3 linked regions of the Homo sapiens genome follow. The protein of the gene in region 1 interacts with the protein of each later gene in a pairwise test. Each region holds a gene or a part of one and is shown in the gene's direction. Other genes may lie near its edges.

The links.
Region 2: the proteins of ZNF205 (region 1) and WT1 interact in a two-hybrid assay, tested with the Homo sapiens proteins (one large-scale study listed by BioGRID and IntAct).
Region 3: the proteins of ZNF205 (region 1) and MAPK6 interact in a two-hybrid assay, tested with the Homo sapiens proteins (one large-scale study listed by BioGRID and IntAct).

What each region holds. Positions count from the first base shown.
Region 1 is NC_000016.10:3,110,993-3,114,743, forward strand, and holds the start of ZNF205 (transcriptional repressor RHIT), read left to right. Parts: upstream 1-1,593; 5' UTR 1,594-1,690; exon of another isoform or gene 1,691-1,958; intron 1,959-2,356; exon of another isoform or gene 2,357-2,424; 5' UTR 2,425-2,438; coding exon 2,439-2,495; intron 2,496-3,751.
Region 2 is NC_000011.10:32,393,969-32,397,619, reverse strand, and holds part of WT1 (Wilms tumor protein), read left to right. Parts: intron 1-1,212; coding exon 1,213-1,363; intron 1,364-3,651. UniProt on the Homo sapiens protein: Transcription factor that plays an important role in cellular development and cell survival. Recognizes and binds to the DNA sequence 5'-GCG(T/G)GGGCG-3'. Regulates the expression of numerous target genes, including EPO.
Region 3 is NC_000015.10:52,060,593-52,064,243, forward strand, and holds part of MAPK6 (mitogen-activated protein kinase 6), read left to right. Parts: intron 1-706; coding exon 707-908; intron 909-3,309; coding exon 3,310-3,651. UniProt on the Homo sapiens protein: Atypical MAPK protein. Phosphorylates microtubule-associated protein 2 (MAP2) and MAPKAPK5.

The sequences.
Region 1 (3,751 bases):
TTTTAATGTTAGAAACTAAGTTAAAAAAAAAACAAAATTAGCTGGGCGCGGTGGCTCACGCCTGTAATCCCAGCACTTTGGGAGGCCAAGGCAGGTGGATCACTCAAGGTCAGGAGTTCGAGACCAGACTAGCCAACACGGTGAAACCCCGTCTCTACTGAAAATACAAAAATTAGCCCGGCATGGTGATGGGCACCTGTAATCTCAAATACTTGGGAAGCTGAGGCAGGAGAATCACTTGAACCAGGGAGGTGGAGGTTGCAGTGAGCCAAGACCACGCCATTGCACTCCAGTCTGGGCCACAGAGTGAGACTTCATTTCAAAAAAAAAAAAAAAAAAATTAAACCCTCTGGGCATGATGGCTCACACCTGTAATCCCAGCACTTTGGGAGGTGGGAGGATTGCTTGAGATCAGGAGTTCAAGACCATCCTGGGTAACAAAGCAAGACCCCCATCTCTACAAAAAAATTTAAAAAATTAGCCAGGCATGGTGGCATGCGCCTGTGGCCCCAGCTACTTGGGAGGTTGAGGTGAATTGCTTGAGTCCAGGAGGTTGAGGGTACAGTGAGCTATGATCGTGCCACTGCACTTCAGCCTGGGTAACAGAGCAAGACCCTGTCTCAAATAAGTAAATAAATAAACAAACAAACCCTTAAAAGCCCACACAACATAGCACGAGCTGGTACAGAGGCAGCTGGGCCCATCTTACTGTGTGAAGCTGTGCACCTCAGGGGATTCTGGTGAGCCAAAGACAGTGGCATGGGGACGTTTCCTAGGGAAACTTCCTGGAATCTGATTCCAGGACTGGGCCCCTGGCCCTTTTCCTGACACCCAGCCCCCATGCCTGCCCAAGAGAAATGGTTCCTTCCCCCAGAAAGTAAAGCACAGTCTCTGTCCTCTCTATTTGAGGCCTTACTTCTCAGGGTCTAAAGGGAAATGGTGCCTGAGAGGCAGAATCTGCAGCTGCCAGGCGTGTTTGAGAACTTAGAACCCCATTTATAGCTGGATCACACCCTCTATCCCCAAGCTGAAATGGGCCTGGAAGAATCGGATTAACCAACTTCTTCCCAAGGTGTGGGGCATCCGGATTGGGGGGAGTTCCCAGCCTGTTTCCCAAGTTCACTCTTAGGGAGAGAGTTCTGTGCCAGTCTTGGGGGGACCCAGAGGGCCCTTGACTAGGAGTCCCTAAATGAATTCAGGGTCCCTCAGGAGACAATAACCTTCAGAAACCCCGAGTGCTAAAATAAATGGTCCTGCCCTCTCCACCCTGCAAAATGCCCTTCTTTCTACCTGTGAGGACAACTGCAGTGCTCGCTTTGAAATTTCAAATAACACAATCTTTCCACAAAATGCATCTTCCATTTTTCTGTTTTGGTGGCTCTGCCTTGCTGGCATCATGAACGCGTCCTGGGTAAAGCCATCCTCATGAGCTGGCATTGCGGCTCTGGGAGTCACCTCCCGGCCAAGAGCAGGTGCAACCCAGGCTCGAGACTCCACACCCGGAACCCTCAAAACCGGGAACGCTGTAGGGCTGCGGCTGCATGGGGAATGGGATCTGGGAGGGACTTCCTGTCTTCCCTACTCCCAGTCTCCACCCAACTCCCCCGCCCGCCCCGTGCAGGCTGTGGAGACTCCCTTCCCGGGGGAGGGGGCCCCCACTGCCGCAGGTGCCCCCTCTGCCTCCACCCCGGTGAGAAGGGGGTGCTGGGGAGGGCATCTGGATCCCGAGACCGGCGCAGATGATCAGCTTGCAGGAGGGGATGGGGTCAAAGGTGGAAGGCTTCAAGCTGGCAGGAGAGAAGGGGGCCAGGACCGGGTTTGGGAAGGAGAAGGACATTGTCTGCCAGGACCGAGAGCAGGATGGGCATCCCAGGCCTGGGGCAGGTGGTTGCAGCTGCAGGGGGGCTGCTGAGAGCGGGCAGGTTGATTTCTGAATTCCTGGTGGGCATGGGAGTCAGGTAGGGACACACGGTGTATGTCCTGGGGTCGGGGGACAGCAGGTCCTGGATTACCCTGGCCTTGACGGGCGGGGCCCCACCAGCACCTGTTCTGCAGGATCTCTGCAGAACTTTCTGCTCCTGATGACAGGAAATAGCGATTCCAATTTAGCCTCGGCTTTCCCTGAGCCGGTTACACTGAGATGCGAGGCTCTTGCTTCAGCAATAAAGGGGACAATACAAAATAGCATTCTTTCAAAAATAGGACCCAGAAAACATCACAGAGAGTGGGACCATCGGATAGGATCTGGGAGACTTTCTTTCCGATTGGGACCAGGGAGCGCTGGTACTCGTGGGGATTTTCAGGGCTCTTTGGGGGTGTCCAGGAAGCGAGGGCTGGTTTCTGTCTGCTCTTCTAGGCTCCTGGCCAGAAGCTGGAGGGGGCTTGGCCAAAAAGAGGGAGAAACAACTCAGCTGTTCTTTCTAGCTCTGAAATAGAAAATGTCTGCAGACGGCGGAGGCATCCAGGACACCCAGGACAAGGAGACACCCCCGGAGGTACAGATGGGGCTGGCTGAGGGAGGTGTGCGGTAGAAGAGGCTGGTGCGGAGGAGATTTTCAAGGCACAGAGTCTGGACCCCTGGAAGAGTTAGACTCACTGGGGTGGGGAGATCAAAGAGAAGGTGGCATGCTGGGTAGTACCCTCTGTCTGGAATTTACAGCATAACAGTTTTGCTTTGCTGGTGAATTCTCTAGCCAGTGGCCACAGGAGATGGAAGAGGTCTGGGTGGAGGTCCTATCAGTGAGGTTTTCTTTCTGAGCAGCGCTCAGAGCACACAGGGAAACCTGTTCTCCTTCCCCGTGCTTCTCCACCTGGAACCACAGCTTCTCATCTCTGTGGGTCTGAGCTCCCGGTCCTTTCTCCTTCCTGTACCTGCTACCCGTGTGTGTGTGCGTGCGTGGTTGAGTGTGTGTGTGTAATTACTATTTGTGGGGGACCTGGGTCTCCGGGCTTGGAGTTGGAGGAGTATGAGTCAGCGACAGGCCAGGGGCCAGTCCCTGGCCTCTGGGAACCAGATGTGTCATCTGTAAAATGCAGACCACATGCCTGCCATTTCCACCTGTCTCGCAGGGTCACTGGGAGGCTCTAAGGATAATAGGCATGAGACGCCATCATCTATGGTTTTCATGCCATAGAAGCACAAAGAATTGTTAGCATGGTTCAGTTTCCCATCCACTTCCCGTGTGCCTTGAACACCTTGGGCATGTCAGTAGAGCCCCACATGTTGGCATTCTCTGCTGGCACTGGCTTCTGTCTGGTGCGCACGGCGGGGGGGATTAATGACCAGCGCCACCCTGTGTTTATCCAGGACTTTCCTGAGCTGGCAGCTCCTTCTCCATCATTATCTGCGTGAACCTCATGACCATTCTGTGCAGGGGCAGAGCAGCTGCGTCCTGAAGGCTGCCTGATTGGGGAGGGGTGTCGCTGGGTCTGGCACCCAGGCACTCTGATTCCTGGCCTGAGGTTCTTTCCCTTCAAGACCCAAACACAGACAGGGCGTGGAGGAAGGAGTGTGAGACCCCAGCAGAAGTCCGGCCAGTTCCTGTGCTGTGGATGAGGCCCCACCAGGGCCCTCCCTGACTTTCCCAAAGCTTTTGAGCTATGTGGTCACGGGGCATTGTCTCATCCCCAGCCATGGTGTGTTAGTCTCCCGTGGCTGCTGTAACAAGTTTCCACTCTCTGGGGGGCTGAAAACAACCAGAATTGGCTCTCTCACAGTCCTGGAGGCCTGCAGTCCAAAATCTAGGTGTCA
Region 2 (3,651 bases), on another chromosome or scaffold:
GGCCAGGCATGGTGGCTCACACCTGTAATCCCAGCACTCTAGGAGGCCAAGGTGGAAGGATCCCTTCAGCTCAAGAGTTTGAGACCAGCCTGAGCAACATAGGGAGACCCTATCTCTACCAAAAAAAAAAAAAAAAATTAGCTGGGCATGATGACTCTCACCTGTTGTCCCAGCTGTTCAGGAGGCTGAAGTGGGAGGATTACTTAAGCTGGTGAGGTCGAGGCTGCAGGAGCCCCGATCGTGCCACTGCACTCCAGCCTGGACAACAGAATAAGATCCTGTCTTAAGAACAAACAAAACCAAAACATGGATGCACTCTTGTGTCAGCATCTCACCGCCTTTGGGGTTGATTTACTCATCTATAAAGGAATGAGGAGAATTTAGTGGCCACTCAGGCACTTGCTCAGCTCCCATTTATGACTCCCTGACCCCAAGAAGAGGAAGGGGAGCTTGCCTCTTTGTTTTCCTCCAGTTCTTATTCTTGGAAGACTGACAACACACACACTGCACTTCCACAAGATAAAGGGGAGCAACAGATGCCCTGCAAAGGACGTGTGCAGAGCACAGAAGGCAGATGGATTCCAGTGCTTTCTGGCCTCACTATTAAAGGTTGTGCTGGCTTCACCATGGCCTTCTGGTGGGTTTTGCTTCCTTTCACAGATGGGATCCCCAAATCCAGGGGCTTCTTCTTCCTTGTTATTTACTTATACTTGGACGATCTGGTCAGTTAGGGGCTCATTCATTATCCCACTTTTTTCTAATAAGGATGTCCCCACCCATTGCAGACTGGCTCTAGGTCATGTGGTCATGACTCCAAGTGGGAGGGAGTAGTTAGACTTTGGGACTTTGGACTTGCAGACATCACTACCTCAAGAGGAGAAGCTGAGAGATAGAATGGATTGGGAGCTCTTCCAGGTACCAGCATTTCTTTTGCAGAGGCTCTGGGACAGCCATTTCATGTAGGTTTCATCTCAACAGCCACTTCTGGTTGCTCAGTAGTGATGATCTTAGAGCACTGCATTGTAGAATGTCCTGATCTAGCATCCATTACTGATGTCTGCCATGGGGATCTGGAGTGTGAATGGGAGTGGTTTTAGGTCTGCACCTGCCACCCCTTCTTTGGATATACTCCAGTGCTCACTCTCCCTCAAGACCTACGTGAATGTTCACATGTGGCTTAAAGCCTCCCTTCCTCTTACTCTCTGCCTGCAGGATGTGCGACGTGTGCCTGGAGTAGCCCCGACTCTTGTACGGTCGGCATCTGAGACCAGTGAGAAACGCCCCTTCATGTGTGCTTACCCAGGCTGCAATAAGAGATATTTTAAGCTGTCCCACTTACAGATGCACAGCAGGAAGCACACTGGTAAGTGTGCCCGCTGTCCAGTCTTGGGCAAACATGGTTCAAGAGCTCCTTTTCCAGGCTCTCACACTGCTAAGGACCCAGGTTATTTCCAGGATGGAAAGTAAGCACTGCTTTGAAAGGTCTGATCCAGGTGTTGTAAAGAGGCTGTGGGGCCATTTTGCATTCTGATTATCTATCCTTTATTACAGAGGTCAGTAAACTGTCTTCCAGAAAGGCAGAGCAGAGTGGTAGAGAGAAAGTGCCACAGAATTAAAGAGACCTGTGTAGGAATCGTGTTGGTGTTAGAATACTATTAGCATTTCTAAGGAGAGAGGAGCTGGCCTGGGAATATAGTCATCAGATGGTTTTAGGAGGTCGATGGGCAAGATCATTGTGAAATTTTAGAAGAGATGGTCCAAAGAAAAACTTACCTGCTTGGGTCAGTAATAATCAACTAGACAGGAAGGGGAAAATTGATTGTTAGTTTGATTTTTTAGTGATCACTTAAAAAAAAAAGGTCAGTCATGGGGGCTCACGCCTGTAATCCCAGCACTTTGGGAGGCCGAAGTGGGTGGATCACCCAAGGTCAGGAGTTGGAGACCAGCCTGGCCAACAAGGTGAAACCCCGTCTCTACTAAAAATACAAAAATGAGCCGGGTGTGGTGGCACGCACCTGTACTTGGGAGGCTGGGGCAGGAGAATTGCTTGAACCTAGGAGGCAGAGGTTGCAGTGAGCTGAGATCTTACCACTGTACTCCAGCCTGGGCGACAGAGCAAGACTCTGCCAAAAAAAAAAAAAAGGAGAGAGAGAGATGATGATTTTTTATCTTTGAAGATACGCCAATGAAACTGGATTTTCCCCCAGGTCAGAGAGGCTGCTTCTGGGAAACAGAGAACTGGCATTGTTTGGTGTTGGCCACCTTGAATGTGGACAGCCATGTCACAGAACGTTTACTCTGGGCCTTGTGGGCACTAGGTGGGAGTGTGGGAGTGTGGTAAAACCCAGGTTTTCCTACAGAGGAGCTACTGCTGCCTTTTCCACAATCGAAGAACAGCATTATTATAGGATCACTGTTGCAACTGTGTTATTACTGCTGATTTTGCTCTTGGGAAGCTGGAGAAAAAAGTGAGCTGCATTCAGATTTCCTTGGACCATTGAAATTTGCTAATTCACTGTGTCCAGAGGATGCAATTCTGGTGTCAATCTGAGTTTGCACTCAGTGGGCCACAGACTTTGAGGCTAAAAAGGAGGGGACCAGTGGCATGTTATGTTTTTACACATTTCCCCAAATGGGATCATTTGAAAAGTGACTGTCAAGGTTATAAGGAAAACGAGAAAGTAAAGTCCTGCCTGAAAAATGCAAGGGAATAAATGAAGGCAATATGGTTGTAGAAACTTTTAGTGAGAGAGAAGCACTTAGAATGCAGTGAGGGTTAGACAACTGTGTGAAGGGAAGGCAGTGAACAAGACAGCCAAAACCCCAGACCCACTGGAGCCTTTAAGAAACTCTTCCTTGCAGAAGATGAGGGCAGGTTGGTATTTAACAATCCTACAGTCCCCCTTGAAAGAGAGCAATATTTTCTTATTTATTTATAACAACAGTACAGACTGTTATATTAAGTACTTTTTGGGTGTCAGGCTCTCTACATGTATATTTCATTTAATCCTCACTCACAAAACATTTATGAAGAGTATAGGATATAGCAGAAAGAGGACTCAAACTCCTTCTTTTTAACTGCAGGTTATAATCCTCCTTCTCAAAGAGTTCCTGGTTTGTTTGGGAGCTAGGATATAAAGAAATGAAAAGTGACTGAGAGAGTACATGATCATGTACTAAATCAGAGACAGGAGGTACCGAGGGGTTTGGAGGGTATCAGTTTGAACTAAGGTCATCCGAGAAAGTTTCTCAGAGGAAGAACAGCTTGGGTTAGCCAGTGGAGGCTGGTAGTTTGGGCAGAGAAAGTGATAGATGAGCAGAAGCTCAAAGGCAGGGGAAGGAAATCAGACTCAATAGGGGTAACATCTTCTCCAGCTCACAGAGGTGAAACATAAGGCACCAACCTGGATACAAATACAAAGAAAGGGGCCAGGTGCAGTGGCTCACACCTGTAATCCCAGTATGTTGGGAGGCGTAGGCGGGAGGATTGCTTAAGGGGTTCAAGACCAGCCTGGGCAATATAGTGAGACCCTGTCTCTAAAAAAAATATTTTTAAAAATTTAGCCAAGTGTGCTGGTGTATGCCTGTAGTCCCAGCTACTCAGGAGGCTGAGGTAGGAGGATTGCTTGTGCCCACGGTTTCGAGGCTGCA
Region 3 (3,651 bases), on another chromosome or scaffold:
AGGCATAGAAGTGTGTGGCTGGTGTAAATATAGCTTTCAGGCTGCGTGAGGAACTAAGGAAGGCCTACTAGACTATTTTATGGGAAGAACTGGATTTGTGGTTAACCAGAGTCCTAAGATGTGCAAGGTCAGTGTGTGAACTATGCTGGAGTGTGATGTGAAGCAGAGATCAAGAAATTAGTACAACAGAGATGTTTTACTGTTGTACTTCCCATCAGTGAAGGATGGGAAAGGGCTTTTATTACATACCAGACACTATGATTACATCTCATTTTTGTACCTTATGAAATATCTATGTCTACTTTATGCATGAAGAAACTGATGTTCATCAAGTTTTAGTAGCCTATCCAGCACTACAGTGCTAGTAATTGAGTTAAGCCAGTGACTTGCAGAGCTAGGATTAAAACCTATATATTAGGCCGGGATTACAGGCGTGAGCCACCACACTCAGCCAGAAAATCGTTTTTAAGTTGTAAATCAGGTAAGTTTTATTTCTGACAAATTAACTTTTTAATTGTGTAGTCCATTTTTCCCTTTTATAAGATGGGGACCTATTAGTACAATTAAGATGCTCATTTCCTGTTGTGTAGTATGTAGTGCTAAGGTAATCACTTAGCTAGTCATTGAAATAAATGAGATCAACATTTACTGTTTTTCTAAAGGTAAGCAATTCTTTTCTGAAAAACTTTTACCTTTTCCTCTGCAGCACTGGATTTCCTGGAACAAATTTTGACATTTAGCCCCATGGATCGGTTAACAGCAGAAGAAGCACTCTCCCATCCTTACATGAGCATATATTCTTTTCCAATGGATGAGCCAATTTCAAGCCATCCTTTTCATATTGAAGATGAAGTTGATGATATTTTGCTTATGGATGAAACTCACAGTCACATTTATAACTGGGAAAGGTAAATTGATCCTAAATTAGAAAAATAATATTTACTGAACTTTCAGTGGACCATATGTAGTGAGTTTTTTTAAAATTATGTATAAGACATTGTAGAAGTCTTAAAAATTTAGTAATGTAAAGATACAAAAATTAGTCAGGTGTGGTGGCAGGCGCCTGTAGTCCTAGCTACTTGGAGGCTGAGGCAGGAAAATCACTTGAACCCAAGTGGCCGAGGCTGCCGAGATTATGCCACTGCATTCCAGTCTGGGCAATAGAGCAAGACTCCATCTCAAAGAAAAATTTAGTAATGGTCCTTAATATTTATATCTATAAATAGCCGTTAATTAAAACATTTAATAAAGTAATTACTGGTTAGATGATATATGGGAAAAGTTAAATGCTACTTTGAAACATTTTCAAAGTCATTAAGGCATATTTATAAAGTCCTTTAACTGTGATTTTATGAATGTCAAAAATTTAAGATGTTAGATGACAAGACTCAGTCATATCCAATAAAGTATCTCCAGTGTCTCAGTGGTAGTTATATCTTAACATAAAAAGTATTTGATTCATATTAGATGCAGGATTTTTTTTTTTTTTTTTTGAGATGGAATCTCACTCTGTCACCCAGGCTAGAGTGCAGGCTGGAGTGCAGTGATGCAAGCTCAGCTCACTGTCCTGCCTCAGCCTCCCGAGTAGCTGGGATTACAGGTACCCAGCTAATTTTTAGTAGAGGTGGGATTTTATGTTGGCCAGGCTGGTCTCGAACTCCTGACCTCAGGTGATCTGCCTGCCTTGGCCTCCCACAGTGCTGAAATTATAGGCGTGAACCACCGTACTCAGCCAGTATTTGAATCTGTTTTCCTAATGACACAATTAATTTGGGGACACTTAACATAGGTTCAGTAAAAGAGACTTTTTTAGGTCTAAACATTAGTGTATAATGTTATCCATATTTTGATGTTTCATAAAGTGAAATAATTGGATTTCTAGGAAAGTTTGGCTGGGCGCGGTGGCTCATGCCTGTAATCCCAGCACTTTGCGAGGCTGAGGCAGGCCAATTACCTGTGGTCAGGAGTTCGAGACCAGCCTGGCTAACGTGGTGAAACCCGGTCTCTACTAAAAATACAAACATAAGCCAGGCTTGATGGCGGGCTCTTGTAGTCCCAGCTACTCAGGAGGCTGAGGCAGGAGAATCACTTGAACCTGGGAGGCAGCAGTTGCAGTGAGCCGAGATTGCACCACTGCACTCCAGCCTGGGCGACAGAGCAAGACTCCGTTTCAAATAAATAAATAAATACATTTCTGGGGAAGTTTAGATATAATTCTGCTTCAGAGTAGGATGGTAGCTTATAGAGTCATCAGGTGATTTTGATGCTTCAGAGTAGGATGGTAGCTTATAGAGTCATCAGGTGATTTTGATGTATGGCCAAGTTTGGGAACCACTAATGCCAATCTTTTTAATCTTAAGATTTTAAGAAGAAATTTTTTTCCCCCTCCTCAAATGTTGATGTATTGGTATGGTATGTTTACACAAATCTGCAAACTACTTTTTTTCTCCATGTGTCCATTTCTACCCCCTAAATAATGGTTCTTTTCTTTTTTGAGACGGAGTCTCACTCTGTTGCCAGGCTGGAGTGCAATGGTGCCCATCTCTCTGCTCACTGCAACCTCCTGAGTTCAAGCAGTTCTCCTGCCTCAGCCTCCCTACTAGCTGGGACTATAGGCACCCGCCACCATGTTCAGCTAATTTTTGTATTTTTAGTAGTGGGGGTTTCACCATGTTGGCCAGGCTGGTTTCAAACTCCTGACCTCAAGTGATCCATCCACCTTGGCCTTCTTGAAGTGCTAGCATTGCAGGCCTGAGCCACTGCACCTGACCTGCATTTTCTATTTTACCTAGCTAAGTTATCTAATCTCTTTTCTTTTCCCTCAATGATTATACATGTCAGTAATAGGATAGCGCATTCAGCAGCACGTATACACAGGGAGATTTTTGCTATTCATGGTGATGAGTTTTCCAGCAAACCTCCTCCTCTTCTAGTTGCCCTTACTGTAGAGTAAACATTTAGCAAACCTCCTCCTCTTCTAGTTGCCCTTACTGTAGAGTAAACATTTGTAAGGTACCTGATTGAGATTTGAGATCTGCATTTTGTGGCTATGAAGTCTTTTGTTTGCATGGAACTGGTGGACAAAAAACAAATTGGAAATGAAGTTACATACTGCATTGGCAATTACCAAATATATTAACAGAGCTTTCCTATCAAGACTAAGTTCTGGTAGGGCAAGGCAGGCATATTTACTCTCCTATAATTATCCCCTCATAGACCTAGCACAGTGCTGTCACATAGAAGGTACTCGGTGAATTTGAAAATGAAATCATATACGTAGAATAACGCTAGTGTATTGATTTTTTTCAGGTATCATGATTGTCAGTTTTCAGAGCATGATTGGCCTGTACATAACAACTTTGATATTGATGAAGTTCAGCTTGATCCAAGAGCTCTGTCCGATGTCACTGATGAAGAAGAAGTACAAGTTGATCCCCGAAAATATTTGGATGGAGATCGGGAAAAGTATCTGGAGGATCCTGCTTTTGATACCAATTACTCTACTGAGCCTTGTTGGCAATACTCAGATCATCATGAAAACAAATATTGTGATCTGGAGTGTAGCCATACTTGTAACTACAAAACGAGGTCATCATCATATTTAGATAACTTAGTTTGGAGAGAGAGTGAAGTTAACCATTACTATGAACC